Homo sapiens: one gene and its partners. The main gene of each other region encodes a partner of the protein of the gene in region 3 in a complex. Each region holds a gene or a part of one and is shown on either strand. Other genes may lie near its edges. The genes, in order: ELAVL4, IGF2BP1 and G3BP1.

Region 1 (10,911 bases), on a different chromosome or scaffold from region 3:
AATATGAAGAGAAAGCAGGAAGATGAAGTATGAATCTACTCTTAGGTCCATTTACCTGCACAGGTGAACTCTTGGCGATTTAGACAGGTTAGACATCCATTTGTCACATTTCCCCCCACAGTAGCATTCTTCTAGCTTTCCCACAATCTGTAGTAGACAAAACTACTTAGGAAGGAGAAAGGCATTATTGACTATCAGGTCATATATCTCACAGAGAACATTCGACAGTGAATTTCTGATAGACTCCTTCACATCAGTCTGGTGCATCTTTCTTGCCTCTGTAGTATGTTTGCATTTTCCTATAAAAATTGATTTAATGTTTCTACATGATAAAGAAAAAAAAAAGACAGAAACCAACACCACAATTCAACAAAGGAAAATTAAGCTTTAAATTTTCTCAAAAGCTTTTACATATAGTATACCATTTTCTGGGCAGACTGATTGTATTTTTCCTAAAGAAGGAAATGCCAGCAGTCTAGGTTTATTTTTCAAGGGAAGAGGTAAAGGATGAAAATAAATTGAACCACAGGAAAATGTCAGGTCATAGTCACTGATGACGCTATTTAAATGGTGTGCTATAATCATATTAGGGCAGAGCACATGGAATTCCTGATTTCTGCATGACAGTGAAGAAGGGCCAGCAATTATCTATATGTGTGTGTGTGGATATGTGAGTGTCTGTTCACTCTACCTTCCCACCCCATTTTGCTAATTCAATTGAGGGGCAAGAAGAGGTAATCCAGACAGCCGGAACAGGAGGAAAAGGTCTGCAGCTGTGTTCGGAGGGACTGGTGTGAAGAGAGAGGCTCAGTCTGACTTGGAGTTTTGTGCTGTTGCACGTGAATGCTCTGGAACTGCCCTAATCGACTGAAAATGAGCCGGCTACAGTCATATGGAACAGGTCTGTTTAGCCACATCACTGGATAGCCTGGCAGATGGTAGACCGTCAATGGGTGGTATTGATTGGCTGGATTTGCCTTAGGGTAACAAGACTATGGGTCCTTAAAAACCCGCTTCATCTTATTTTCCTTTGTGCAGCTTCATACAGTAGTGGTTTTCTCTTCTCTCTCCCCCCAGTCCCCAGTATCCCCTTTTACCCTTTTCAAATTAAAAGTCTTCCTTGGTAATCAAAATAGAGAGGTTACCTTGAGATAAACACTCTTTAAATTAGCACCAAGGCAAGAAAACTTGAGAATATTTTATTTACTAGGCTGATTACATTTTAATGTTTGAAGAAAGTGACATTTTTTAATTAGTGTTTAAGACATATGGTGAGTGTACAAATTAGCTTATTTCATACAACCAGAATTTGATGAGAGCAACTCCTCCTTCTCACTCCCCAGTTAAAAATTGTCACTTGAAACTTAATATATGCAAGGAGGTTAAATGGTATTAAGTGATGCCGTCTTGACTTAAAGATGAAGGACATAGTCACTATTGTGTATGGCTAAATACGGCCTGGATGGGCTGGGAAAATATTACTGTCAACACCTGTGTTTGCAAGAAAATGTGGAGGTTCCAGACCTTTAATTTTGTCCAGCCAAGAAAAGAAAATCCCAGGTATCTGTGTGTGTTGGTTTCTGTTTTAGACACATGTGGAACATAGAATGGTGTTGCATGCTTTATAAGTAATAAGATCCTCCTTAAAATCAGGCCATATAACAATATAAGTGATGTAATTTATTTTTGTTCAGGTGGTTCTATATCCTTTTAACATACCCCCAATCACTTGGAGCTTTCAACTTGGGACATTCTGTTTATTCTTGGCAGAGGAGCAGATTAATTGGAATAGAGTGATACAAAGGAGATGCCAAGTTAGCTATACATCCAAAATAGTATACGACAGAAATGTTCCACTTCGAGGCAGATCTTCGGGAAAAAGAACAGCAATGGGTAGAGACATGTGATTGGCTTGCTCTTGTGGTTGTTTATCACTATTCATATAATTGTATTTTTAAAAGAGAGGCTTAATATTTTGTATTTTTTTTCGGTGTCTTTACTTTTAAGCTTTCAGTTATTTCTTATCAGGAAAGACCCACATTAAATAAACCTAATTTCTACCCAGAAGAAAAGTTGCACCCTTAAACTCTTGCCTCCATCTTGTATGTGCTTCATCCACATGCACACTTTTGAGTTTTCATCACTGTGTGTGAATATTTTTCTGTTTTTGCTAAAGAGAAATATTTTCATGAGGTTTTTGGCCTTCCCCATTGCTCTGTGTTGATTGTATTTTCCTTGTTCATCCTTTGCTGAATGAAACAAAGCTTGTTTGTGTTTCATTCTTCGCAGTTCTTATTAGAATTTGTGGCAGTGTTTTGTTTTGTTTTGTTTCATTTCCTTGCTTTAAGTCAAGAGAAGGAATTTTATTTATTTATTTTGACAAGATATAGTGAGAGACAATCTTGCCTGTTAAGATGCTAGTGTTTCTCATGTCACATTTTACACCCAAAAGCTATTCCAAGGGGAAAAAAAAAAGAAATCTTTTAAGATGGTTCATTTGAATCTGTGCACTCTACCCACCTGGTGGTTATATAGTGAACTGTTACTTTAAAGAGTAGTTTAAACACCAGCCATGTTTGGGGCAGGCTGCTCTTGCAAAGAGAGCAGTACATATAACAGGAGTCTACTGTGTGTGAGATAAGGGGAAAATTCAGCTCACTGACTAGAGGTTTTAATGTACGAACTCTAGGGAAATAATATATTGACTGTTCCGTGGTGCGCAAGAAAATTGAAGAACCCTTTGCAGACGGAGTGCTTTGCAAAGGATTCTATCTGTTTCTCTTAAAACAAAATCTGTGGCAAGATGTTTGAAATCAGCAGGACGCTTAATGCTGCTTTGTTAAATAATGAGGTAATATTTTGTCACTTTTTTCTGGGCAGCATCTGTTTTTCCCCCCTCTTCTTTTTTTTCCCTATATTTATGAAGGATTCCTTTTTTTCCGCCTCATGGAAGTCAAGGAAATACAATTCACGCTTCCATTTCTGTTCCTTCCTTTTGGTGCTTTTGGAGAATTTGGTTGTCTTTTTTTATTTGCAGTTTCAGCCGGCTGCTGTTTCCTAGCCCATTGTGCCACGTAAGGCTTCTCCACTGCGCGGAGTAGGTAGTTATTAACGCTGAATTGGCTTCTGGTACAGTCCATCTGGACTCTGTGTGGGAAAGCTGGCTGCCGGCGACTGATGCTGAGATATCTGCAACCTTTGGGATGTGTGCATGGTGGCAAGGGGCTGACTGATATGAGATTACTTCTTTTAAGGGAAATTGTCATTAATGAGTCAAGAAACTGCTCATTTATGGTAAGAGGAATACAGCGGCGCTGGCAGCCCCACAGTGCTGGGATATCATTTTTAGGTTGCCTTAGCTGCTTGAGTGAGACAAGTTTCTTTCTGTGGTGGTGGATTGTGGCAGAAAAAAAAAATCATGCATGACTGGGAGACTCGCCTGCCTGATTCTTGAGATAATATATTGAGAATCTGTTGCTTTACAAATGTCACATCACTGATGTAGCGGTCAGCCCCTCACTCTGAAAGATGAATTGTACTATTGGAAATGCGATAATAAGGTTGACTTTTCCCAACAATAGGATTCTGCCTTTGTCTTTAGAGAAAAGGCCTCTGAGGACATTTGTGCATTTGTTTGAGGATTCTGTTGAAAGACTTTAAAGTGGAGGTTTGTGGAAAAGTGATCAATATACAAAATGCATGAATTTTTAGCCTAGCAAAACCAGCTAGTTATTTATACTGTATATACAGCTACTATTTTGGAAAAGTGGCCAGAATACCTTTTAATATACCTAATGTTAATTTATGGTTCAATAAGTGTACTGAGGTTAGTATGGATGGGAGAAAAGGGTTTTTAAAATTTTTATCTTTTATAACCTCCAGAGAAATCTAAGTAAATATTTTGTTCCAAGTGAGCTGTTTTTATTTGTGTTTGTCAGCATTGTCTTAATGTTTACTTTTCACAATATTTTAATATTGGTGAAATTGCACTCAGAGTTTATGTTGTTGATTTGGGGCACACATACCTACTCTGTGTATATATGCTGAACCATTTAGAACACTTTAACCTGTGAATTCACCCTCAGTACACAGTTCAACAGATACTGTAGTACTATTGTGACTCACAGGACATTTTATACATTTGCTAAAGAAATTACTTTAAAAGTTTACTTAACTGAGTATTGTTCCACCTTAAGGAATTATAGTTTTAACATTTGTACTTTTCTATTTCATGTATTTTCATTTCTAATAGCTGAACGTATTCATACTCAAGTCTAATGGATTATGCAGTGTACCCAACACATATTGTTTTATGATGTATCTGTATTTTCTGAAGTGTGAATATATATGTATGTTTATATGTGTGTGTTCATGAAACAGCATCTTGGACAGAATAGTTTTAATCTTGAAAAATGTAAGGTTATTTTCTTTCCTAATAATTTTTCACAAACCCATTTATTCTTGGACTTTGAAACCCAGAAATATAGCTTATTTTTTGGTCTGTATGTCTACTCTGCCTAGTTCTGTCTCACTGTCAACTCTAGTCAAAGATTAAAGATTACATTGAATTTTGTATTTGGTAATATGTGTTACCACTGTGTATTTATTGAAGAACAAATTGATTAAATTATGAGTTAAATAAATAGTGACACATTAGTCTTTTGCATAGGTGTGAAGCATGAACTTCTCAGGTAAGCCACTTAAAAAACCCAAACCAGAACAAAAAATACACTACTGAAGGCTTGGTAGTGTAGAGGTTGTTAAATGTGTAAATAGGCAGACAAACTGTATACCTCACCATACACTTGCTAAATGTCTCTTTGCAAATCTCTTAAGAGGCCAAAGAAAAAAAGACATCCCTTTGAAGGAGAGAAGCAAAATCACTTATTTAGTTAAGCAAAATGAACACTCTGCACAGGTTTTGAAATGAGGCTGTTGTCAAAAGCATGTTTTACCTTTCTCTAAAGGGGTAGGAGAATGTGTTTTAGTGGATTTTTAAAAATTCAGATCATGTTCCTATCCAACTTGAAAAATAAATTCATTTAAGTAAATCATTCATCATCCTCAGTTTTGAAAAGCTCAGACAGAAGGCAGAAAGGTAGAGGCTGACAGCTGCCCCTCCCTTACCCCCACCATTTTTTTTCTTTTTGTTTATTAGGAAATAGTTTTCTGAGACAAACTTGTATGAACCTAGTTCACGGAGCAAGCTTAATCCCCAACTTGCTTGCTTTTGAAATGTTGGCCATGTTAGCTGGAGAAGGAGCATTACTTACTAAAAATCAGCAATATCTGGAAATAATAAAGTTAAATTGTAGATGAATTAGCACATTAAAGTGCTTTTGTTGTACCTTTAAGCCTACAGGCAGATCATTAAATATGCATTTCGCTAGAAAGCAACTGTCTAGAAAGATAAGGTGGTTGAAAATATTCTACGGTGGAAAAGCCCTCCATCAGAGAGGTGGCACGGTTCGGCCCTCAGGATGGGAAAAGAAGGACCCTCCCACTGTTAGTTTAGGTTTGCAAGCCTCCAGTGACCTGCAGTTGTTACAGTACTTTTGAGCTGGGAGGAGGGAAAAGGTAAAAATACAAGTATGGCTGTTGTTGCTTCAGCCGGGCCTTAATTACCAGACACAAGAAGCAGTTCAGAAATCTGGTCTCTGTTGTTGTAGAGGTCACCAAATCATTAACATCGTCAATCTGGCAGTAGCTAATTTAAATAGCACCTGATGTTGCAACGCCTCCCTTCGTTTCCCCAGCCAATCAGATCCAGGCTTCGGCTGACAGATGGTCCCATAAATGGATGTAAAAAGGGGAAGCTTCGAGCCAATTTCAGCAAGGCTCTGTTCAGTTGTTCTTATCTACATCCTAGAATCGGGGGTTTCAGCTCACTGCTCCTTTTCTTTTTTTTCTTTCTCTCCCCCGCCCACCCCCCCAAAAATAATTGATTTGCTTTACAATCATCCACACTGTGTTTTGTGGATCTTTAATTATATATAACAATAGTAGTCATTTTAAATATATATTCTGAAATCTTTGCAAATTTTAACAGAAGAGTCGAAGCTCTGCGAGACCCAATATTTGCCAATAAGAATGGTTATGGTAGGTATGACTAGATTTATAATCTGTTGTTTGTGTTGCTGGAGGGAAGAAAAGCATCTACACCTTGACCAGTCTTATGCTTGCACAAGAGTTTAGTTCTGTGCTGCTGTTTGGTTCCTACATTTACTATCTCTTTTGTGTAGAGAGTGCGGGTAGGTCCTTTTATTGAAAAGCAATGGGGATATAAGATTGTCATTTTTAGCAAGTCGTTGTCAGTTTTCCCTTCAACATAAAGGCAAGGGGTGGAGGGGGAGGGCTGAAATAATTGCTGGTTTATTGAAAGAGGTTATATTACTTGAGACATAATGGCAAAAGAAGGGTTTTCTTTTTTGTAAGGGAGAGGGGGTTTGTCTACGTGCCTGGGTTTTGTGGGGCTGGGGGTGGATGCAGCGGGGTTAGGAATCTCTCAATTTCCGTGCTGGAAATTTAAACCTCGAGAGGCAGCTCCTGGATACTGAACACTGAGATGGGCAGTTGTGTTTCGGGGGACTGCGCAGTCAAAACGGCAAAGAGAGTGATTTATTTGGGCTTCAGTAAATGCTGCATCTTGTATTTCAAAGAGTTTCCTGTCATGACCTCATAAAAAAGAGGAGGCGGCTTGTATGTGTAGCAGTGCCTGGCGTGTTGAGTTGTTGCTTCCTTCTCTGGGCAGCAGCTCTGTAAGAAGGAATGTCAGCTTTTACATAACGTTCCTTTCCGCTTTTGACACACTGTGTGAGGGTCCATCTTCTTCTGATCACAGATGGAGTGGAATGGCTTGAAGATGGTAAGTGAAAAGAGGAAGGCAGCCTGGAGGTCCCAGCCCTGTGTGTGTGTGTGTGTGTGTGTGCTTGTATGTGTGTATGTGTAAGGATGCTGGACTGTGCATCGTAAATCACTGTGCTGATCGTTTGTGTGTGTATGTATGTGTGTGTTTATTAGTATTTCTCTTTTCTGAAAACCAGAATCCATCTCCAAGTGTAATGGCACTGCATGCACACAAGGCACACACACTGCCTCTTCCAGCAAACACACATTTTAGCCAAGGAAGGTTGGTGTCTTTTTTGACAATCAATGTCACCGTCACTGTTGGCTGGCGTGTCCACCGCCTCTGTGAGCCTTCAACGGAATTACACGACTGCTAAAGTTAAAGGCACATTTCTTTTTCAGTCTCATGCTAGGAGTGATGGGGAAGGATGGGAATGAGGGGTGGAGGAGGTGAGATTCAGTACCAGCCGATGCAATTGTGAAACAGGACTTTCGGATGTGGAAGGGGAAGTGGAAAACCTTTCTGCCGAAGTAGTAAATCTATTTTTAGCATCATCTTTTTCTGAAAAAAGAAGCAGGGAAACTCCTTGAGTGCCGCTTCTGTCGCCTGATGTTGACCCTGAAGATATGGCACAAAATGGCATGATTAGATGCCACGAGTGCCCACTTTGACTTTGAATTTTCACCAGCAATAGGTTTCACAAGGTTTCAGAGCTGGGTATGGGGGCAGGCTGTAAATTCATAACCATCTTACTTATTTTTCCCTAGAAAAGCCTGGGGAGGACTTTTTGCTCTGCATAGATGTTATAACAAAGCTGTGGTCTTTTTCCCATTCTTAGAGGATTGCCTTTGTCTGGCTGCTTGTTTTGATGGGTGTAAAACAAATAAGATTAGACCGAGCAGCCCAACTGAAAGCGATAGCTGGGAGGAAAACCCAATGAAAGGTTGCCGGGGAAACGAACAGAGGAGAAGCCGAGTAGGGAGCAGGTGGCTATCATGAGAACACACTGCAAACAGTGTAAAAAAAAAGGGGAGGGGGACAGGACCTCGATTATCTTTGCTGTTCTTTGTGGCCAGCCCAACTTTAATTATTCGTTATTAATAGGTGTTAATTACATTTCTAACTCTGGTTTACAGTGATTTTTAGAAATCTATTTTTAAGCATCTGTTCTGTCTCCCCTGTTTTTGTGTGTGTGTGCGTGTGTGTGTGCGCGTGTGGTTTTTGTTGTTGTTGTTGTTGTTTAAAAAACCCAGAGAGGAGGTGAGGGGGAAGGGAGGGTAGGGAATCTTGCTTTTTTTTTTTTCCTTTTTCCCCCTTTTCCCTGGTGTGAAATTGTACATGCGAAAAATCGCAAGGAATCCTGTGAGACCATTTGAAAAAATGTAAATTATATTGAATGAAGTTGACGGAAGCATAATAGTGAACTCCCACAGCTGATAGGTTCTGCAAATGATTTCTTAGAAATTTCCAGCAAATATTCATAGGAAAAATATAGGTAGAATAGATCTACCCTAAGCAATGATTTGGGGTTAGGTGATTTTGGTATTTTTACTAAATCGGATGTTGATACTATAGTTTCAGGGGAATTCATTGTACCTCTCATTTTTTTCCTCAGTAGAAATTACTTTACAAAATAATAAATGAAGAGCTTTTTGCTTTCCTTCTTTCCCCATGCCCACAGTCACAGGATCCATCAGGCTTGCACTCTCATAACCACTGCCTTCCATTTGGCATTTGGTCCTGATTCTGGTCTTGGCACAAACTGAGTGAAAAGCTGATTTTTATATTAGTGTCTTTGGACGTCTGGGACCCATGTGTGCACTGGGTGACAAGCATCTCTCTTTTTTCTCTAAATGTGCTTTACTAATAGTCTCTTTTTCTCATGATGGTGGGTACCATAAGGATTGAAAGGTGTAGTATTTGGGTGAACAGGAGATAGCGTAAAAACAATTGAAATGGTGATCTGTTAGGGTTTTTTACTAAAGGACAAAATAGATGCATGATCAGGGAGCTAATTGTAAGCCCAAAAATGAGAGATTTAAAAATGCTGAAATACACTAAAAGATTAGGAAATATAATTGGCTTTATTGAAAGTACACTTAATTTTTGCTCTCTTCATTGCAAATCCCCCCAATTCTTTTTTCCTTGCAGATGCGTCTTTTTGTTTTCTCTTCTTATTAGGGGATTTAAAAATTTTATTTTCACTCTTGAGGTAAAAATAAATAAACTTGTATTTTTTGTCATACACTTGAAACTTGCGGCCATATGTTGAGTGCATAAGCCTGTGTCACCTTTAAAAAAATAGAATTTTTTTAAGTCTCCAATATAGTTTCTTTTTTTATTTTCTGAGAATTTTCTGGCAATTTTTAGTTAGGGGAAAATAATTTCTGTAAGAAGTGTCATCTTGGCTTGGGTTGTAAAAAAGACACGTGGTTCTGATGCTGACCTTTCTCGATCCTTTGTCTTAAAAATATTAATGCCTACTACCTTCATGTGGAGTTGTGCTCTTATGGAAGCACAAGGCTGAATGTGCATTTATTAAGAAGTGAAAATCCAATTGGAAATATTTCTGCAAAAAACATCTGACTAAGTAGCAGTTTTAATGATCAGAATGTCCATATATCTCATAGTAACATAACAGCTAAATCATTTAATATTTAAATTTTTGAAAGGGTAAAATTAACATAGATGAGGAAGTAGCTGAAAAATTACTTTGAGAATTGTTGATTTACAAGACAATTTAATATCTCATTTTTTAAAAAGCTAACAAACAACTTAACCATTCATTTGTGATCTCAGTCCCATTCATTTTTACCTGCCATTCATTCAAGTCATTCTCCTGGCCAGATGTAGATGGCCTTGCTTCTGTTTGATGGTTTGCACAAAACCTTAAAACTTTTTCTCTCCCAATACTCCTTCCTTGGTCCTTTGAAAATTAGGGTGTTGTTATGAGAGGAAGGCCAGATTGTTGTGAGATAATAACAATAGAATATTTAGAAAGAGAGAGAGAGAAAGAAAATGAACTGCGCATTTGCCTTTTAGTTCTAAACTTAGTCTTGAAATTGGATTTGGGACACTTTGGACTTCAGATATTTTAAACTTAGGATTTCTATTAGGTATAAGCTATTTGAAATTTCACATCTAGAAATTATTGTTTGAATGGTGCTTTGTATGTGTGTGTTCAATATCTCTAAAAGGACTTGTGGATGAATTGAGATGTTTTTCTCAAGTTAGAGTTACTGTGAACAACAATGGGATTTCCTCAGAGTAAGTCTTTTTTTTTTTGGTTTGATTTCTTCCCTTTACACTTATTTCCTTATTATAGGTGGGTTCTTTTCCTATATGTAGGCCAAATACTATTTCTTCCATGAGGAGATATGCTGCTTCATTTAGCCCTGAGCATCTTAACACCTTATTTTAATTTTTTTAAAAAAAGAAACAAATTGTCTGTATGTACCTCAAGTAAGAAATGGTTGTCTTCATAGAGGTCATCATACATAGACGAAAGTACTTTGGCCTTGACAAATTTCTTCATTAGCTCCAATGATCTGTGGCCACCAGGCAGTTAATTTATATGCCTAGACATTTAATATGTACATTTGTTGGTGAGCTGGCCAGAGGATGCTAAACACACGAGTATGCGCTGGCAAATGCTGCAATGCAGTATTTTTTTCCCAATGTCATTGGGAATTTTGGGGCTAGGAAGGGACATGAACATTTTCAAGCTTTTATCTTACTATTGTCCAGTCGATGGGCCATGTTGTACAGATTTGGTCAATTCTCCTTTTGAAAGTAAAGTCAACCTTTTATTTACCACTATCCATTCCCCCATCCATGTAATGTATATGTGGAAAGTGTGTGTGTGCGAGAAAGAGAAGCAGAGAGACTCTGTGTGTATCAGTATAAGTGTGTTGCAGATTCCTGCACCTGTCTTAGGCTTTCCTTATTTGGTATTACTAAACATGTATACACACTTACTTGCAAGTATATGTGCATCTATAAATGGAGAGAAAACCAAACTGGGCTGCTTCCCATAAGAACTGGTTTCTCTTCATGACTCCAAG
Region 2 (6,871 bases), on a different chromosome or scaffold from region 3:
AAGTTACTTAAATATCAAGCTAAGCAACTGAACAGATTTTTATCTCACATTAAACTTTCTAGGCCCTCTTAATGGTCCCCCAGAAAAAGCAGTCATCATCTCCCATCTACCCGGAAAAGGCCAGAGACTATCCTGAAATGTACCAAGTTTTCAGCTGAAATGGGGGGTGAGGAAGATCAAAGATTTACTGGGGGCTGCTTTCCAGCTTGGGACATGAGAGCAAACTCTACACTGTCAACATGTTTAAAGTCTGATTTGAGAAAGTAGAAAGACTCTGCCCTTATACTTCCCAGCCAGAGTTCAAGGAAAGGTTTCAGAGTTCAATGCAAGATTTGAAATCCACCATGAATTCTCGGTAAGTATGATGGAGGTACCCCATTTTGCTGAAGAGAGAGGATAGAGGGTATTGGAACACACACGAACACACACACACACACACACACACACACACACACACACACCATTCATCCACGGAGTTCTAGACCCTCCAAAGAGCCCCAGCTCACAGCCTCAACACAAAGCTCTCACCCCAGATGGTCCCCTGGTAACAATGGGCTGAAGGAGTGGGGGTAGGGGGGCTCGAAAAGGATAGTACAGCCAAGGCATATTCTTTGGAAAATCCAGCTGGGGAGAGGGATGATGTGAGATATGAGGGATTGGGGGTGGGGGGTCCATGGAAAATAAAAAGTCTTTGCCTGTTGTAGAAATATAAATAAAGTACAAGCATAAGGGGATTCTTTGGGGGCCGGGAAACTCATTCCACATCGCTTCGGGAGAAGGGCAATCCACTTAAGAATTATGGTGTGGAAAGAGTGGGAAAAACAGAAAATGAGGCCTGCTACGAAGTTGCAGAAATCGCCATGAGTCTGAACTCTTCAAAGATTTTAAGGTTCCCCCACAAAAAACGGCCCCACGAGTTGAACAAACAAACTCCACAAGGTTTCTCCCCTATTGATTTTCTTTCCCCTTTAATTCTGCAAGTAACATCTTTTAGCCTACCCCAGCCCCAACTTATTTATTTTTTTTTTACAAGCTGTAAACCACCCATTACAAGATCTTGGCCAATCTTCCCTCCCTGCCCCCAACATCCGGAGTTGGGGGTGGGAAAGACCAGTAATGGGTTTCTTCCACTGGAGACGCTATGGACCCCTGAACACAGCTTCACAGCACACCCCCGCGGCCCCCCCACCCCCCCCGAAAAGAGCTCTTTCCTACCTTTGTTTTTTGGGCACCGAATGTTCAATCTCTAAGCGTTTTCCTTGTAATTCTACTTTCCCTAAAGATTAAAAAAAAAAAATTACCATGAGAGCTTGAACAGGGGTTGGGGGTGGGAAGAGGAAGGGGAAAAGACACTAGGATAATTCAGGAGTTACTGGGATTCGAGATCTTCCTAGGAATCCAGGCAGTGGCTTCCGCATCCAGATGGGAAAAAGGTTGCTCTAGGAATGGTGGAGTCTGTAAATTCGTTATTATTCATTTTTTAATTTTTGCTTTATTAAATCACTGAGGCTTGTTGAGTGGATCGCTCTGGAATCCCGATTTGGGAAAGGTGCGAGGCCATTTGTGTGGGTGCGCTGCCTACACAGCTCCCAGATGTGGGAAGGAGCCAGGAAAGAAAGGGCTCCCCGTTCCTCAGAAAGTGGGGCGCGGGGCGGGAGGCAGTGTGCAGAATGAAACTTTATTTTTCTCTGTTGGCCAGGAAGACGGGCTTTGGGCCACGGAGCGGTCACCTGTCGGGGCTGGTTTGGGAAGGGGTGGACCTGGGGGAGCGGAGCGGGGCCTGGCGGGGAGGGTCCCTCACTGCCACCGCGCGCGCCTCTCGGCCCAGCCTCGGCGTCTCGGGAAGCAGCATGGCGACCCGGCGCCGCCGCCGCCGCGCCACCCCGCTCACGCCCCACTTTCAAATCAAAATGGCTCAAGCCCCAGGCCCTGGGCGGGAGGCAAGACCCCCTTCCTTGCAAGTCCTGCTGGAGGGCTGCATTCCCCACGCGAAGCGGACAGATCGCAGGCGGTCCGGGTACCCCTTCCACGCCTGGAAAGGCCTAAGACTGAGGAACGGGAGCCGGGGTTTTCCAGCTGGGGGGGCGTCCACCGGCGGATAGGGAGGGGCTGGGCGTGGAAATAACGCCCAGCCAGGGGTCATCCCCGTGTCCCTAAATTCAACCCCCCACTACTGCCAGTGGGGGCTCCCGCCCCGTCGGTGGGGAGGAAGGATGGGGGAAGCCAGAGCTCCTTATCTCAGGCTGGGAGAAAGGGATGAGGAAATCCCGAATGTTTCTGCGCGGGGGTGGGAGGCGCAGAGCGAGGGAGGGGGCATCGAAGGGGGTAGGTCGAGGGTGGGTACGGAGGCCAAACCCCGCAGGCCCGGGAAGAGAGGAGTTGGCGGGAGAGGAACCGGAAGGTGCGGGTCTCCGTTGTTCGGGGCTCTCGTTGTGGCTTTTCCGGGAGGTGGCTGTGTTCTTACCGGAGAAAGTTTCGATGGCCTTCATCGCCCAGTGCTCGTCCGGGCAGTCCACGAAGGCGTAGCCGGATTTGACCAAGAACTGGCCGCTGTAGGAGATCTTGTGCTCCGCAAACACTTTCTCCAAGTCCGCGGGGGTCACGCTCTCGTTGAGGTTGCCGATGTAAAGCTTGTTCATGGTGGCGGTCTCGGGGCAGGACGCGGTCCCGGGCAAGGCCGAACGAGCGGGCGCGGGCGGCGAGCCTCCTAGGCCAAGAGGCGGAGAGGCCGGCGGCAGGAGCCGCAAACTTTCTTTGCACCCCACCCCAGAAGTTGTCCCGAGCCCAGGGCGGGGAAGGCGGCCTGAGGGCGCGCAGAGGTCGCGGGAGAGTTCGGGGAGAGCCCAGGAGAAGTGCCCGCGGCGCGCAGGGAGACGGACGACACGGCGCAGCTTCTTCCCTTCGGTCCGAAACCCCTCCGAGAGGGCTGGTGTGTCACGTTTCTCCGCGGCCGCCCTGGCGCCGCCTCTAAATAAAATCGACTTGAAAAAAAATGGAGCGGAAAAAAAAAAAAAAAAAAAAAGGAGAAGCCACGTGGTGACAGCCCCCACCCACCCTGCAGGGAAAGACCCCCGACGCCACAGGGCCCCTCGGCCCTCCGGCCAAACCCGATAATCTCCCGCCTGAGGGTGGGGAACTCAACTCACCCCCGGGGTAAACTGGGGCGGTGCGGCAGCGTCCCTGAAGCTCTACAGGCCCCTTCCCCCTTTGCAAGAACCTGGCCCCTAGGGAAGCGCCCCGCCCCCACCCATCCCCCTACCCCAGCCCAAACTGGGGGAGGATGGTCCAGCCCAGATCTCACATGTCTTAAAGGGTAAAATGTACGGTTATTTTTCATTCGTTTTGGGGGGCGGGGTTGCTCACCCCTCCCCGGTTAACTGCTAGCGACTGACAGGCGGGGGACGGCCGAGACAGACAAAGAGAAGCCGAAGACTCTGGGGTCTTCAGGAGAGGGTCGCACGAGCTGGTGATTTAAAAAGAAAGGAACCTTTTCCCTAGATGTTTAAATGGGGGGGGTCTCCGCCTTCCCCACGCCAGCCCCACGAAACTCCCCCGCCTCCGGGGATGCAGGACCGGGGGACCCTGCGAGCGCGGGACTGGAAAGCTGGGAACGGGGTATCCCAGTGGAGAACGAGGAAGCCGCAGGAAATAATGTTTTGAGATCCCCACGGGAGAAAGGGTGGTTCGCACCCGGGGTCCGGCTGTTAAATGATAACGTTTCGGGGTCCTGAGGGGAACACGCGGAACTGGCCGGAGATGACTCCAGGAGACAGGAACGGTGGGAGACAAGGAAGAGGAGTGATAGCTAGGGCTAACCGGAGCGAACTGAAGGGGGAGGTCTTAGGGAGGGAGTGACCGGGTGGAGATTTGAATGGTCCCCTTTTCCCTCCCAGAGTCGGGGACAGACAGGTGGAGTTTCCAGAGCCTGCACCACCCGGGACACTGCTGGCAGCTCTCTAGGCCCTAGGTTCGGGTCTCGGAACTTTGTTTGGGGTGCAGGATTCCGATCCTGGCGGGAAGGCGGGAGAGGGACGGAGGGCGGGGGGCTAAGCGGGAAGCCCCGCCCACGTCCCCAGGTCAGACCCGCGGGGGGAGGGGGTAATTTCCGCTCCGCGCACGGGGAAGCGAGGGGCGGGAGCTTAGGGGAGGGGGCGGCGGCCACTCCCCTCCTCCTCCCGCCGTTCCTGGGGAGGGGGAAGCGGATCCGCCTGGGTCCCTTCCCTCGGCTTTGACCAACTCATTCCGGATCCTCCGGCTCCCGGAGCCCGAGGGAAGGACCCGACTGGGCAAGGGGCGACACGTGGGCGGTCGCACCCCGTCTGGGCGGTGGGGGAGGGGGCTGCTCGCCGCGCGTTTCGGAGTCCCGGATACGCGGCGGAGAGCGGGACGCGCGGTCCACGGGCAAGCCCCGGCTCCACGGCGGAGCGGCGAGCGAGGCCAACGAGTTTCTAGCGGCGGAGGCTGGGATGGCGCCAGGGGTGGCCGAGAGCGCGGCCCGGAGACCCTGGAACCCCCTCGCCCAGGGAACGGGGAAAAAGGAGGGGTCGACCCCCAGAAATTCTGGAATCCCCTTGAACAGGGCGAAAACTGGGGTGTTACTCCGGACTCTGTGGGAGGGAGGATAATTCTAGCGGGGGCACGCGTGCTGGGAGGGCAGGTGAGGAAGGGGGTCACTCCCCTTCCCCAGTCCCCGACCCCATTGTCTCAGTCGCCTGCGGCCCGGGCCGACTCCGCAACACGTGTTGACTACACCGATATGAATGCCTTGAATTTTTTTTATTGTTATTATTTTTCGTTTGCAGAGTCTGAGCTGACTCCGACTTTGGCTCACCGCTCTGCGGCCGGACGATTGTATGCCATTCAAAAAGTCGGGAGTTGAAAGACAGCACGCAGCACCTTTGTCCCCCTCCCCGTTTTCCCGGCGCGCTGAAAAGAAATGGGGCTGGGACTTAGGGGCGGGGGAGGGCTTCCAACTCGGTTTCTCTATATCCTCCACCACCTTAGAGCCCACCCTCCCCAATGAGCGTTTTGTTCTACCCAGCCACGTGTTTGTCGGATTTTTGTTTTTGTGATTTTTTTTTCCCATGGAACAACAAGAATTAAAGTACTAGGAGCTATTTGTTGTTGAGTAGAAAGAGAATATTTTCTGTCCAAGAAGGTGGGAGACATCTGTGTCTCACCCCCACACACACACCTCCGACCCTCCCCCCTTATCTGACTCTTAATACTTAGCTGTTGGTCACAAGCATTATTTTTAAACAAACCAATGAGTAGGAAACAGGCATGCCACATAGTAGGCACTCAATAAACATTTTTTTAAATGAAAAACAAGCTAATACAAACAGCACAGCAAAGAGAATTGATGAAAATTAGAGTCCAGGGGGGAAAAAATTATCTTGGCCAGAACGTGTGGCTCTGTTGCCCGGGAACTTTTCTTGGTGATGTGTGTAGACTTTTGAAAGGGCTAAAAGATGGTCTCAAAAAGGCTGTTGTATTTCTTGGCCTTTTCCTAAAGAGGAGCCCCAATCTCCTTAAATCTTTTCTGTTATATTGGGGAACAAGGAGGAGGGCAACTAGGCAGATCATCCCAGTTCCCAGAAACTTTAAGTGCTGTTTCTTTCATTTAATTTGAATCTTTAGGTGCTAATAAAAGCACTTCTCAGATTGTCTCCCTGGGGGACATATCCACTACTCTGCCTCTGTATGCCTAAAACAAAAGCAAGTTACACCCCATAAAAATCTCCATCCAGACCTCTAAACTCCTATAAAATGCAGTCCACTTTTTACTATCCTAGAGTCAATGGGAAACAACATTTTTAAAAATAATCAGTGAATTCAGTTCACTTTCAGGTTGATTTTTTTCCATGTAAAAATATACTAACTAAATGTTAGCTGAAATCAGTTTTAATGTATTTAAGATAACGTTAGAAGAGAATATATAAATTTCACTTGAACAATCTGCTATTTTTAAATCCTTTTAAATATTTAATTAAAAATTACCAATAATTGCTAAATTGAAACTGATTAGTTCTTTTTAAAAAATCAGCTGTTTTACTGAATTCTAATCCTCTCCACCCCCCAAAAAAAGGCTTATGTGTGTATAGTCAGAAGCTGCAAAGGCTGCAAGAATACAAGAGAGGAGACAACAGGGGTGAGATACAGATCTTTTTAGCCCCCAAATCAGTTTTGCCTTAGTGACCTGGCTATTTTAGGCTGGGGTTGGGGGAACTAAATCACATTGATTGGTGTTTCATCTCTCCCTTTTGAATGAGCCCAGCACTCACATTAAGGGTTATTTCTTATCTAGACTGACATTCCTAGGTTAGGGATAAAAATGGGCAGACTTGAGGTACCATAACTTTTCATCTTTCTTTTCTTTGTTTTTGTTAACATTAAAGATTACTATCAAATATTGTATTTATTTTCAATTTTTTTTCTACATTGCTTCTTTGGGACAGATAAATCTTTAGTGCAGAGTTACACTTGTGTAAGAGTTAAAAATATAGCTACAGGATTAAATGGTTTTTTCTTTAATAATTATCCTTTATAATACATATCGTATATAATATATATTGTATATTCTACATAGTAATATTAATACTGTTATACCTCTTCCTCTTCTTGTTCTCCTCCTCTTCCTCCTCTTCTTTATTTTTTCCTGGAGAACAGTTTGGTCTAGTTATGGAATTTAATTATCTGAATTCAGAAACACTGACATTTGACTCCATTTTAAAGATAGGATAATAATCCATTTTCCTCCAATGTGAATATACAAATACATGCAGAGAGGAAAAAAAAAGTTTGAGAGAATAAACCAACTTTTTTAAAGATGAAAATAAAAGAATATTTTTCTTGGAGAAATAAGCCAAGT
Region 3 (10,645 bases):
ATGCCAACTAGAAAAGAAGTTTTACTTCAGCAGTTCATTTCTACTTCCACTATAAAGTTATCTTCAATAAAATTTCATAGAAAAAGTATATTCTGCCATGTTATTTTTCTTGAAAAGATGTTATGCACTTGTAGTAACAAGTATGTAATAATTTATAGTGTAAAAGATTAAATATTAAATAGAAAAGGAATCACTGATAGGGTGCTACAGTGGCACCTAAAATTTCTGGTCTAACAGGCATTCAAGTTACCTCGGGGAAGGGAGTGGTTTCTTTTGATGAAATAAACTAATACACATCTTACCTCTCTCTTATCAAACATATGGCTCAATATCTAAGAAATTTCCCTGAAATGAACCACCAATATGAAAATGTATCTACAAGTCAACCAAACAGCAATACAAAAGAACAGAAACTTTTTTTAAAAAAAATAACTAGGAATAGAATAAAAATGAAGACACGTTTCATACCCTCAAGTCTTCCTGTACTGTCTGAGCTATGTCTGCAGGTGCTGGAGAAGAACTCTTCTGAGCATCCTCAGGGGCAGTTTCTTCTAATACTGGCTCAGGCTTTTCCTCTTGGATTTCAGATACAGGTTCTTGTTCTGGTTCTGGTTCAGGATCAGGCTCTGGTTCAGCAACAGGCTCCTCTAAATGTTCTTCCATGTCATTACTTTGACAGGAAAATTTGAGAAATATCATTCTGCCACCATTTATTTCACAAAAAATTCCTCCATCATTTATTAATCAGAAACCAGAACACAGAGTTAGCTCCTTCTATCCAAAACAAAAATCTAAGAATTGTATATCTATCTGAGTTTTTAAAAAGTAATTTTTAAAATGCCACTCAATAACTTAACTGGAATCCATTTGTTTGGCAAATTCTGATAAGCAAATGAATCAGGACATCAAAATGAACCAAACCACTTTATGGCTGGAATCCCACAACTATTACAATTCATTTAGCATACAACATCAGAAAAACTCTCAAAATAGGCTGGGGCGGGGGGGGCGGGAAAGAAAGTTGCCATTCAATGGGTATAGTCTGTTTATAAGGTATATAAAGTTATCTTCAATAAAAGTTGTAAGGTGAAAAGTCCTAGATATCTGTCATAGAACCACATCTATACAGTTAACACTACTGTACTTTACACTTAAAAATGGTTAAGATGAAAAAAAGGTTAAGATGGCAAATTTTATGATATGTGGCTTTTAACACAAACACACAAAAACTCTTTCAAGCACATAAGGAATTTGGGGGAGAAAATAGTTATGATTCAGAATACAATTCTTAAAATTCCACATAAATCAACCAGAAATGCTGTTAAAACTGCAGAGGGGGCTGGGCACACACCTGTAATCCCAGCACTTTGCGAGGCCAAGGTGGGCAGATCACCTGAGATTAGGAGTTCCAGACCAGCCTGGCCAATATGGCGAAACCCCATCTCTACAAAAACACAAAACTTAGCCGGGCATGGTGGCGTGCGCCTGTAGTCCCAGCTACTCAGGAGGCTGAGGCAGGGGGATTGCTTGAATCCAGGAAGCGGAGGTTGCAGTCAGCCAAGATCGCGCCACTGCACTCCAGCCTGGGTAACAGAGCAAGACTCTGTCTCAATAGAACAAAAACAAACAAAACTGCAGATGTTTTGCCTCCTGAAAGTCTAATTCGGTAGGTTTGCAGTGGGACCATGAATCTTCATTTTCAACCAGCAACCCAAGTGAGTAACCTGATTAGTTCATCACACCTTAAGAAACACTTGAAAACACCCTTCAGGCACTGAATATTAACATTCAGTATCACATGGTAACAAGTAAATATGGATTTCTATTGCTATCAAACACATTTCTGTTCTAATCACAAGGGGGAAAAAACCCAAAGGTATAATGATGCACTTACTAACGTAATGAAATTCTTTATTGCTACTTAACTCACATATTGGTATTTATATCAATTTATGCCCGATCTCTAATTAAATAGGTCTCTGTCCACTTCATATTCCCTCAAAGCATTTAATACCTCAATACATTCAACTCTTGATAAACAATATGCAAGTTTTCACTTAACACCAAGAAAAAACTAAACCAAAAAGAAACTGATACTATTTAAACTAAGCAATAGTAGATTGCCTTCATAGTACAATTTACTATTAACAAACAAGTTACATATTTTTGTTTAGTCAAAATTACCAGAAACAAAACCATTCTTCTGAGAAATTATTATTTTGAGGTAATTCTCAGAATATGTAAATGCCCTCCAACAAAGGGAAAGACTAGACAATGCAAGTTCTTATGCAGCCCCGGACATGTGAACAAAATCTTCTTACCTGACAACTGCCTGATCATAGAAAGTTCCAGAATCATCAGGTACCACCTCAGGTGTTTGCTGTCTTTCTTCAGGTTCCTCTACTTCTTCTTCAGACTCTAAGTGAGAAAAAGATATTTAAAGTAATTTGTACTTACTGAATTCACATATACATTAACTTTCGCAATGTTCACAAAACAACAGTGAAGAAAAACATATATAAATAAACAAAGTAGGACAATTTGGTAAAATCATGGCACTGACTTTAAGGACAGAACTAAGGCTTTGAAGAACAGACTTTTTTTTGTTTTTTGTTTTTTGAGACGGAGTCTCGCTCTCTCGCCCAGGCTAGAGAGTGCAGTGGCGCGATCTCGGCTCATTGAAAGCCCCACCTCCTGGGTTCACGCCATTCTCCTGCCTCAGTCTCCCGAATAGCTAGGACTAAGGCGCCTGCCACCACGCCTGGCTAATTTTTTGTATTTTTAGTAGAGATGGGGTTTCACCATGTTAGCCAGGATGGCCTCGATCTCCTGACCTCGTGATCTGCCCGCCTGGGCCTCCCAAAGTGCTGGAATTACAGGCGTGAGCCACCGCGCCCAGCCTTAAGGATAGACTTTAAGGCTACTGTAGTGTCTTGGTTTTTAAGAGCATGGAGCCTAATGCAGGCTCTGTCACCTTACTGGCTACGTGACATTAGCCAAATTATATTAGGCAGTTATCTAATGCAGGCTCTACCACTTTACTAGGCAAATGATTGCTTATCTGTAAAACTGTATTACAAAATAAATATACTCTCAGCCATATAAACAACACTCAATTCTACTATTTTGGAGAAAATTTTCCATAAGTCTCTGTGTCTACACATCTTCCATGCCTACCCTTTCTTCTAGACTGTCTTTCAAGAACATTTATATAGCAAACAGCTTTGAAAGAGTATCTCCCTCCAGCACAAAGAGTAGTCATGTTTACTGCCTGTTGTAATAGATCTGGGTTCCCTAAACTCAGTGTCCCATGCCTTTAACACAACCCACTGCAGTAGAAGTATCACCTAGCCTTCTCCATGACATCCTATTGGTAAATGTGGCAAAAATACTACTACTGTCGCTGTGAGTTAGCCTGTCTCCTTCTGACCTAAGAGTCTTATGTCTTCTACTAACATCCATGATATAAGCTAACCTGTTAGCAGCTTCAAGTAGGGTAAAACCTCAGACTCTTCATATACCATAATTAGTTATTAATGAAGAACAGAGTGTAATGAAAACAGTAAAGAAACCCATAGTCTCTTAAGGGCAATCGGATGCCATTAAAAAAAATTTAGACAAGTAATTTAAAGTATTTCACTACTTACCCTCCTGAGGCTCAGTGACAAACCCACCAAAGACCTCATCTTGGTATCTGAAGATATCATTGTGAACATAGAATTTATTTGCAACAGACCCCTGCAATGCCAACAGAAAGTTTTAATTTATTCAACAGACTTTTAGAAAGTCAAATCACTCTACACCATTGGTGACTGGGACAAGTCTGCCTCCATGAGACATCTGGCAATATCTGGAGACATTTCAGTTTTTGTTGTTGTGGGGTTCTGAGACAGGGTCTTGCTGTCAGCCAGGTGGGAATGCAGTGAGCCACCACAGCTCACTGCAGCCTTGACATTCCAGGCTCAAGCAATCCTCCTGCCTCAGCCTCCTAAGTAGCTAGAACTACAGGGGCGCGCCACCATGCAAGGCTAATTTCTCTTTTTTCTTTTTTTTTTTTTTTTTTTTGAGTAGAGACGGGATCTTGTTATATTGCCCGGATTGGTCTTTAATTCCTGGGCTCAAGTGGTCCTCCCGCCTCAGCATCCCAAAGTTCTGAATTATGGGTATGAGCCAGCATGCCCTGCTGACATTTCAGTATTCACTACATGGAATGCTACTGACAACTTATAAGGTTAGGGATGCTGCTAAATTCCTACAATGCACAGGACAGGCTCCCACAACAAAGAATTAGTTAATCCAAAATGTCAACAGTGCCAAGACTGAAAATGCCCACTCTACAATAGCCGGTAAAAAGACTACACTCACATACATTTTGTTTGCTCAGAACACTTTACCTCACCACAAGATAAATATCCAAAAACTGACAAAGCCCTAAGCATGTAAATGCCACAGCCCACACCTCAAAACATTATAAGGCAATCATATCCCGGATGGGCACAGTGGCTCATGCCTGCAATCCCAGCACTTTGGGAGGCCGAGGCAGGCAGATCACCTAAGGTCAGGAGTTCAAGACCAGCCTGGCCAATATGGTGAAACCCCATCTCTACTAAAAATACAAAAATGAGACAGGCATAATGGCCCACACCTGTAGTCCCAGCTGCTAGGGAGGCTGAGGCGGGAGGATTGCTTGAACCCGGGAGGTGGAGGGTGCAGTAAGCCCAGACTGCACCTCTGCACTCCAGCCTGGGCGACAGAGTAAGACCTTGTCTCAAAAAAAAAGGCAATCATATTCCTAACTTCAGCAGATATTTAAAATTCCCCAAGTCTGTCTCCAAAAATATTGATATAAACACTCAAGGGTAGTGCAGCCTGAAAAAGATTGCTCGCAGTAGGTATAAGACACACCTGAGTGCAGATCCAATTATATATTATGAGTTATTCAGTTTCTAAGGCTGTTACTCCTCTGTAAAAAGAAAGGTACCAGCTAGGCACAGTGGCTCACTCCTGAAATCCCAACACTTTGGAGAGCTGAGGTAGGAGAACTGCTTAAGCCCAGGAGTTTGAGACTAGCCTGGGCAACAGTGAGTTTTTTGTAGAGTGAGTCTCCACAAAAGCAGAAACAAAAATCAGCCAGGAATGGTGGCCTGCACTTGTGGTCCCAGCTACTTAGGAGGCTCAGGTGGGATTATCATTTCAGCCCAGGCAGTCAAGGCTGCAGTAAGTCATGATCCTACCACTGCACTCCAGCCTGGGTAACACAGGGAGACTCTTCTCTCAAAAAACAAAAAAGAAAGATATCAACATATACCTCAATACTCTCTGTATTAAATGAGACAGTTTATATAATAGTGTATTATACTAAGAAGTTAGATACTTCCTTTAAAAGAAAAAAACTGTAATTAAACCTGTAATTCACAATCATACTCCATGTGATTCTTTGCATATTTAGAAGTCTACCACATCTTTACATTTTAATCTAAGCCTTCCTCTAAAAATTATGACTATAATTGGCTTCATGTAATTTTGCACAGACAAAAAGTTATCTCATATTCAAAGGTTAAAAGATTTTAGGCGTTTCAGGTTTGCTATCCTAAAAAGAAAACTTAAGATTAATGCTAGAGAAAACAATGATTTAATCAACAATTTCTTACTATGCCATTTCTATATACATGCTTAAGCAGACAGGATTCCTAACCTTGTTCAGTCTAGACCAATCCGGAAGAAAACACAAATGCAATCATTCAACATAAACTTGTCGTCCTTTCATAAGTATAACTAAAAAGAACCAGGCCTCCTTGAAGGAACAGCTGATTCAAGAATAGGGACTGGGCCAGGAACAGTGCAAGATGAACCTGGAAAATATTTTGCCATAAGTGTTCAAGAAAGATAAAAAGATAGAGAATCTCCCATCCTTCATTTACAAATCAAAAAGAGAAAAAATAAGGCTGGGCATGGTGGCTCACACCTGTAATCCCACTTTCGGAGGCTGAGGCAGGCAGATCACTTGAGGTCAGGAGTTAGAGACCAGCCTGACGAATATGGTGAAACCCCATCACTACTAAAAATACTAAAATCAGCCGAGTACGGTAGCACACGCCTATAGTCCCAGCTACTCGGGAGGCTGAGTCAGGAGGACAGCCTGAAACCAGGAGGCGGAGGTTGCAGTGGGCAGAGATGGAGCCACTGCACTCCAGCCTGGACGATACAGTGAGACTCCGTCTCAAAAAAAAAGAGAGAGAGAGAAAAGATATTTAACTTTACAGTGGCAAAACCTAACTAATCAAAATTCATATCACAACTAAATGACATAATATGCCTAATGTGAAGCACTGAATGACACCCATAAAGCATCCTACAAAAAAAGTGTGCTCTTCAAAAATGTCAATGCAATAAAAAAAAACAAAAGATTAAGGAACAAGTGCAGATTAGAAGAGACTAGAGACATGATAGCTAAATGCAATGTGTAATTATAGATTCCATGTTGGACAAGGAAAAAAAATTACTGTTAAGACATTATTGAGATAATTTCCAAATTTTAAAAATGGATTATAGATTATATTGCATCAACATTTCCTGAATTTGATAACTGTACTACAGAATGGAAGAGAATTATTCTTAGGAAATGCCCACTAAACTATTTTAGAGAAAGAATTATACACATGTGGGCAAGTGGTGACAGCTGCTCTAGGTAAGGAGTATATAGGAGTTAGTGTACTATTATTCCAAGTTTTCTGTAAGTCTGAAATTTCAAGTGTTTTTAAAGATATGCACAACAGTTCATTGTTTCTTTTTTCATGTATTGGATCACTACAAAATAATCATTCCTACACATACCTCAGGAGCAAGGACAAACGTTTGCATGAATCTCCTCAAAGCCTGGTTGTTGTTAGAGAGAAGCCCCATCACCTGGACTACCACACCATCATTTAGCGTGGCATGAGCATCAACATGGCGAATCTTGGTGTGGCAGTTGGTGAAGTTTTGTGACATCACTTTCCTGTGGATTTCCTTAAAAAAATAATAATAATAATAATAATCAACTGAGAATGCCTTAAAATTTAAATAACCTCCAACTAAAAAAAACCTTCCAACACAACACAAAGAGAATGTGTATATTTAAATTACAGGATATGCAGACTGAATTTTGATGTTTCTTTGTATACTCTATTCCCAGTGACCGCGCTTGAGTTTTTTAAATAACTGTCCTGAATTAACACACTTTTCAAAGTTTAGAAAAGATGATCCCCATGCTAAAGCCAATTATCTTCCAACACACAAAAGCTTTAGAATATATCATACAAAATTAACAAATCTGACATCACATAAGTATTTCAACAAATATATTAATCAAATAGTAATAAAACACATCAACTTTTACTAAAAAGTTGAGAAACTGGATCTTTATCAGCAAATCTATTAAGTATGATCCACTTCAATTTTATGAGTTATTTTCTACCTGCTTAACAGCCTAAATAAGGCTTGAAATGCTTACTTTCTGTCCGTAGACTGCATCTGCTGGCTTTCCATTTGAATCCAATCCCCCATGGACATAAGAAGAGTTCTTTCCATAAAATCTGTAAAATGGGAAGATGATTTACTTGTCATCTTCAAGTATCTTAAGTTTATTTTTCACGTCTGATACTGGCAAACTTTTTTTTTTTTTTTTGCAACGGGGTCTCATTCTGTCACCCAGGCTGGAGTGCAGTGATGCAATCATAGCTCATTGCAGCTTCGATGTGCCGGGGCTATGATCTTTGATGTGCACATTTTTTTTTTTTTTTTTTTTGCTCTTGCTGACCAGGCTGGAGTGCAATGGCACCTCAGCTTCCCAAAGTAGCTGGAACTACAGTCACATGCCACCATGCCTGGCTGATTATTTTTATTTAAGTAGAGATAAGGTCAACTATGTTGCCCAGGCTGGTCTCGAACTCAAACTCAAGCAATTCTACCTGCCTTGGCCTCCCAAAGTGCTGGAATTGTAGGTGTGAGTCACCGCGCCTGGCCCTGGCAGAAACGTTTTCTTTTTCATCTTTGTATGCAATCATCTCTGTATCCCCTACATGCCACTTGATCAACATTTGCTGAATGGGAATGGATTTGGTTCCAGGTTTCAGTGTAGGATGATACTGTTGGGAAGGATCTTGTAGTTTCATGTCAAGATGGCCACCAATACATAAGTTCCTATTTTCACTCAGGAAGAAAATGTGCGGTAAGGCTGGAACAGCTATCTTCTTCATAGACTTCAAGTGTCCTTTTATTAATGTATCTGAGAATAAGCGTGAGCGGTTCCCCTTAAACACCTAGTTCATGCAAGTGGTTTTAGAAGTACTTTTTAACTATTTCTGCTGATGCAATTAAGAATGTCAAAGTCAATTCCTCATGGTTTTCACCCATCTATGTCCTCCTTTGATCCATTTTCATTAAAACAATATTCTACCAGGAAAGCAACACACCAAAATGCTCTAATCCAGGGATAACCACTATTAAGATTTGACATTTGTCTTCCAGATAAATACATTTTTTTTTTTAAGACAGAGTCTTGTGCTGTTGCTCAGGCTGGAGTGCCATGGCGCAATCTTAGCTCACTGCAACCTCCGCCTTTTTTTGTATTTTTAGTATAGAGAGAAGGCTTTGCCATATTGGCCAGGCTGGTCTTGAACTCCTGACCTCAAGTGATCCGCCCACCTCAGCCTCTCAAAGTGCTAGAATTACAGGCATAAGCCACCATGCCTGGCCTATGCTTTTTTCTTTTTGTTATGTTTTATGTCAGTTTTATTCTATGGGGTAGAAAGAAATTAACCAAATATAAAAATACAAAAAAAGGCTGGGCACGGTGGCTCACGCCTGTAATCCCAACACTTTGGGAGGCCAAGGTGGGCGGATCACCTGAAGTCGGAAGTTCGAGACCAGCCTGACCAACACAGGGAAACCGTCTCCACCAAAAACACAAAATTAGCCAGGCATGGTGGCGCATGCCTGTAATCCTAGCTACTCGGGAGACTAAGGCAGGAGAACCACTTGAACCTGGGAGACAGAGGTTGTGGTGAGCCGAGATAGCGCCACTGCACTCCAGCCTGGTCAACAAGAGCAAAACTCTGTCTCCAGAAAAAAAAAGAGCCAGGCATGGTGGTGGTGCGCACCCATAGTCCCAGCTACTCAGGAGGCTGAGGCAGGAGGATCACCGGAACCTGGGAGGCAGAGGCTGCAGTGAGCTCTCACCACTGCATTCCAGGCTCGGTGACAGAGCGAGACTCCACCTACTAAAAATAAATAAATAAATAATACACACACACACACACACACACACACACACACACACACACATATAAACTTAGCTGGGCATGGTAGTGCATGCCTGTAGTCCTAGCTATGTAGGAAGCTGAGGCAGGAGGATCACTTGAGCCCTGGAGGTCAAGGCTGTAGTAAGCTATGATCTCACCACTGCACTCCAGCCTGGGCAACAGAGTAAGACTGTCTCAAAAAAAAAGAAAGAAAGGGTAAAAACAGCTTTGAGACTTGTTTTATCACTTAATAGTCATGTGCATATGTACCTGCAAATTTTTAACCCCTCTGAGTGTATCTGCAAAATGAAGTTAACTCTCTTACAATGCCCTACCTTTCAGTAAAGATTTTTGTAATGATCAGGAGGAAATGAGAAAAAATGTTCTGGAAATTTTAAAGCCTTAAAAAAAAACCCAATTACACCTGTAATCCCAGTATTTTGGAAGGCTGAAGCAGGCGAATTGCTTGAGCCCAGGAGTTCGAGATCAGCCTGGGCAACATGGTAAAACTGTCTCTACAAAAAATTAGCTGGGCGTGGTGGATTGCACCTCAGTCCCAGCTACTCAGGAGGCTGAGGTGGGAGGATCGTCTGAGCCCAAGAGTTCAAGGCTGCAGTGAGCTGTGACCTTGCCACTGCACTCCAGCCCGGGAGACAGCTGAGACTTAACTCTCTCTCTCTCTCTCACACACACACACACATGCACACACACACACACACGAGATATATTCCATTGTCAGAGCAATGTCAAAACATTCATAAATTTTATTTTATGAATTGAAAATATTCATATTGAATACATTCATAAATTTTATTTTATACCTGATAATCATGTGGTATCCAATATGCAAGCTGGTCAAGGTGTAAGGGAAAAAATAGTTCTGGTCCAGCAAATACACATTTTGAAACTTCTATGAAATTATTCTAACAAGTCCACATAAATAGACAGTTTTGTATAAAGCGACATTGTAAGAGAAAATAATAGAAGCAATCTATAGATCCATCATTAGGAGATTAAAGTACACTACATCTCTATAAAAAGCTGTGTAGCCACTAAAATTAATGGGATACAAGTATTACCCTGAAAGATGACTCCAGATTATCAAGTAAGAAAGTTAAGACAGTATATTAAAACATGTTTCTATATATATAGAAAAATTGTTTCTGTGGTTTTACTACTTTCATAATTTATCTGTGTTCTAATTTTCAATAAGCATGCATCATTTCTACTAAAGACACTAATTTTTTAAAGCGCATCAACACAAAAGTATGGTATTACAGGAACAGTCATGGATTGTCTTCAATACATTCTTATTTTTTACATCCACCTCAGCTCCAGCAATCTTTAATACATTCTTAGTAAAT

What was found.
Region 1: G3BP1 (region 3) and ELAVL4 share a complex: the UniProt entries of both Homo sapiens proteins name them as parts of the TAU mRNP complex.
Region 2: G3BP1 (region 3) and IGF2BP1 share a complex: the UniProt entries of both Homo sapiens proteins name them as parts of the TAU mRNP complex.

The regions. Positions count from the first base shown.
Region 1 is NC_000001.11:50,103,100-50,114,010, forward strand, and holds the start of ELAVL4 (ELAV-like protein 4), read left to right. Parts: upstream 1-5,820; 5' UTR 5,821-6,090; coding exon 6,091-6,099; intron 6,100-6,733; exon of another isoform or gene 6,734-6,841; coding exon of another isoform or gene 6,842-6,865; intron 6,866-10,911. UniProt on the Homo sapiens protein: RNA-binding protein that is involved in the post-transcriptional regulation of mRNAs. Plays a role in the regulation of mRNA stability, alternative splicing and translation.
Region 2 is NC_000017.11:48,993,514-49,000,384, reverse strand, and holds the start of IGF2BP1 (insulin-like growth factor 2 mRNA-binding protein 1), read right to left. Parts: upstream 3,001-6,871; 5' UTR 2,640-3,000; coding exon 2,465-2,639; intron 1,277-2,464; coding exon 1,216-1,276; intron 1,117-1,215; exon of another isoform or gene 1-1,116. UniProt on the Homo sapiens protein: RNA-binding factor that recruits target transcripts to cytoplasmic protein-RNA complexes (mRNPs). This transcript 'caging' into mRNPs allows mRNA transport and transient storage.
Region 3 is NC_000005.10:151,787,252-151,797,896, reverse strand, and holds part of G3BP1 (ras GTPase-activating protein-binding protein 1), read right to left. Parts: intron 7,575-10,645; coding exon 7,493-7,574; intron 7,009-7,492; coding exon 6,835-7,008; intron 3,739-6,834; coding exon 3,648-3,738; intron 2,419-3,647; coding exon 2,322-2,418; intron 671-2,321; coding exon 469-670; intron 1-468. UniProt on the Homo sapiens protein: Protein involved in various processes, such as stress granule formation and innate immunity. Plays an essential role in stress granule formation.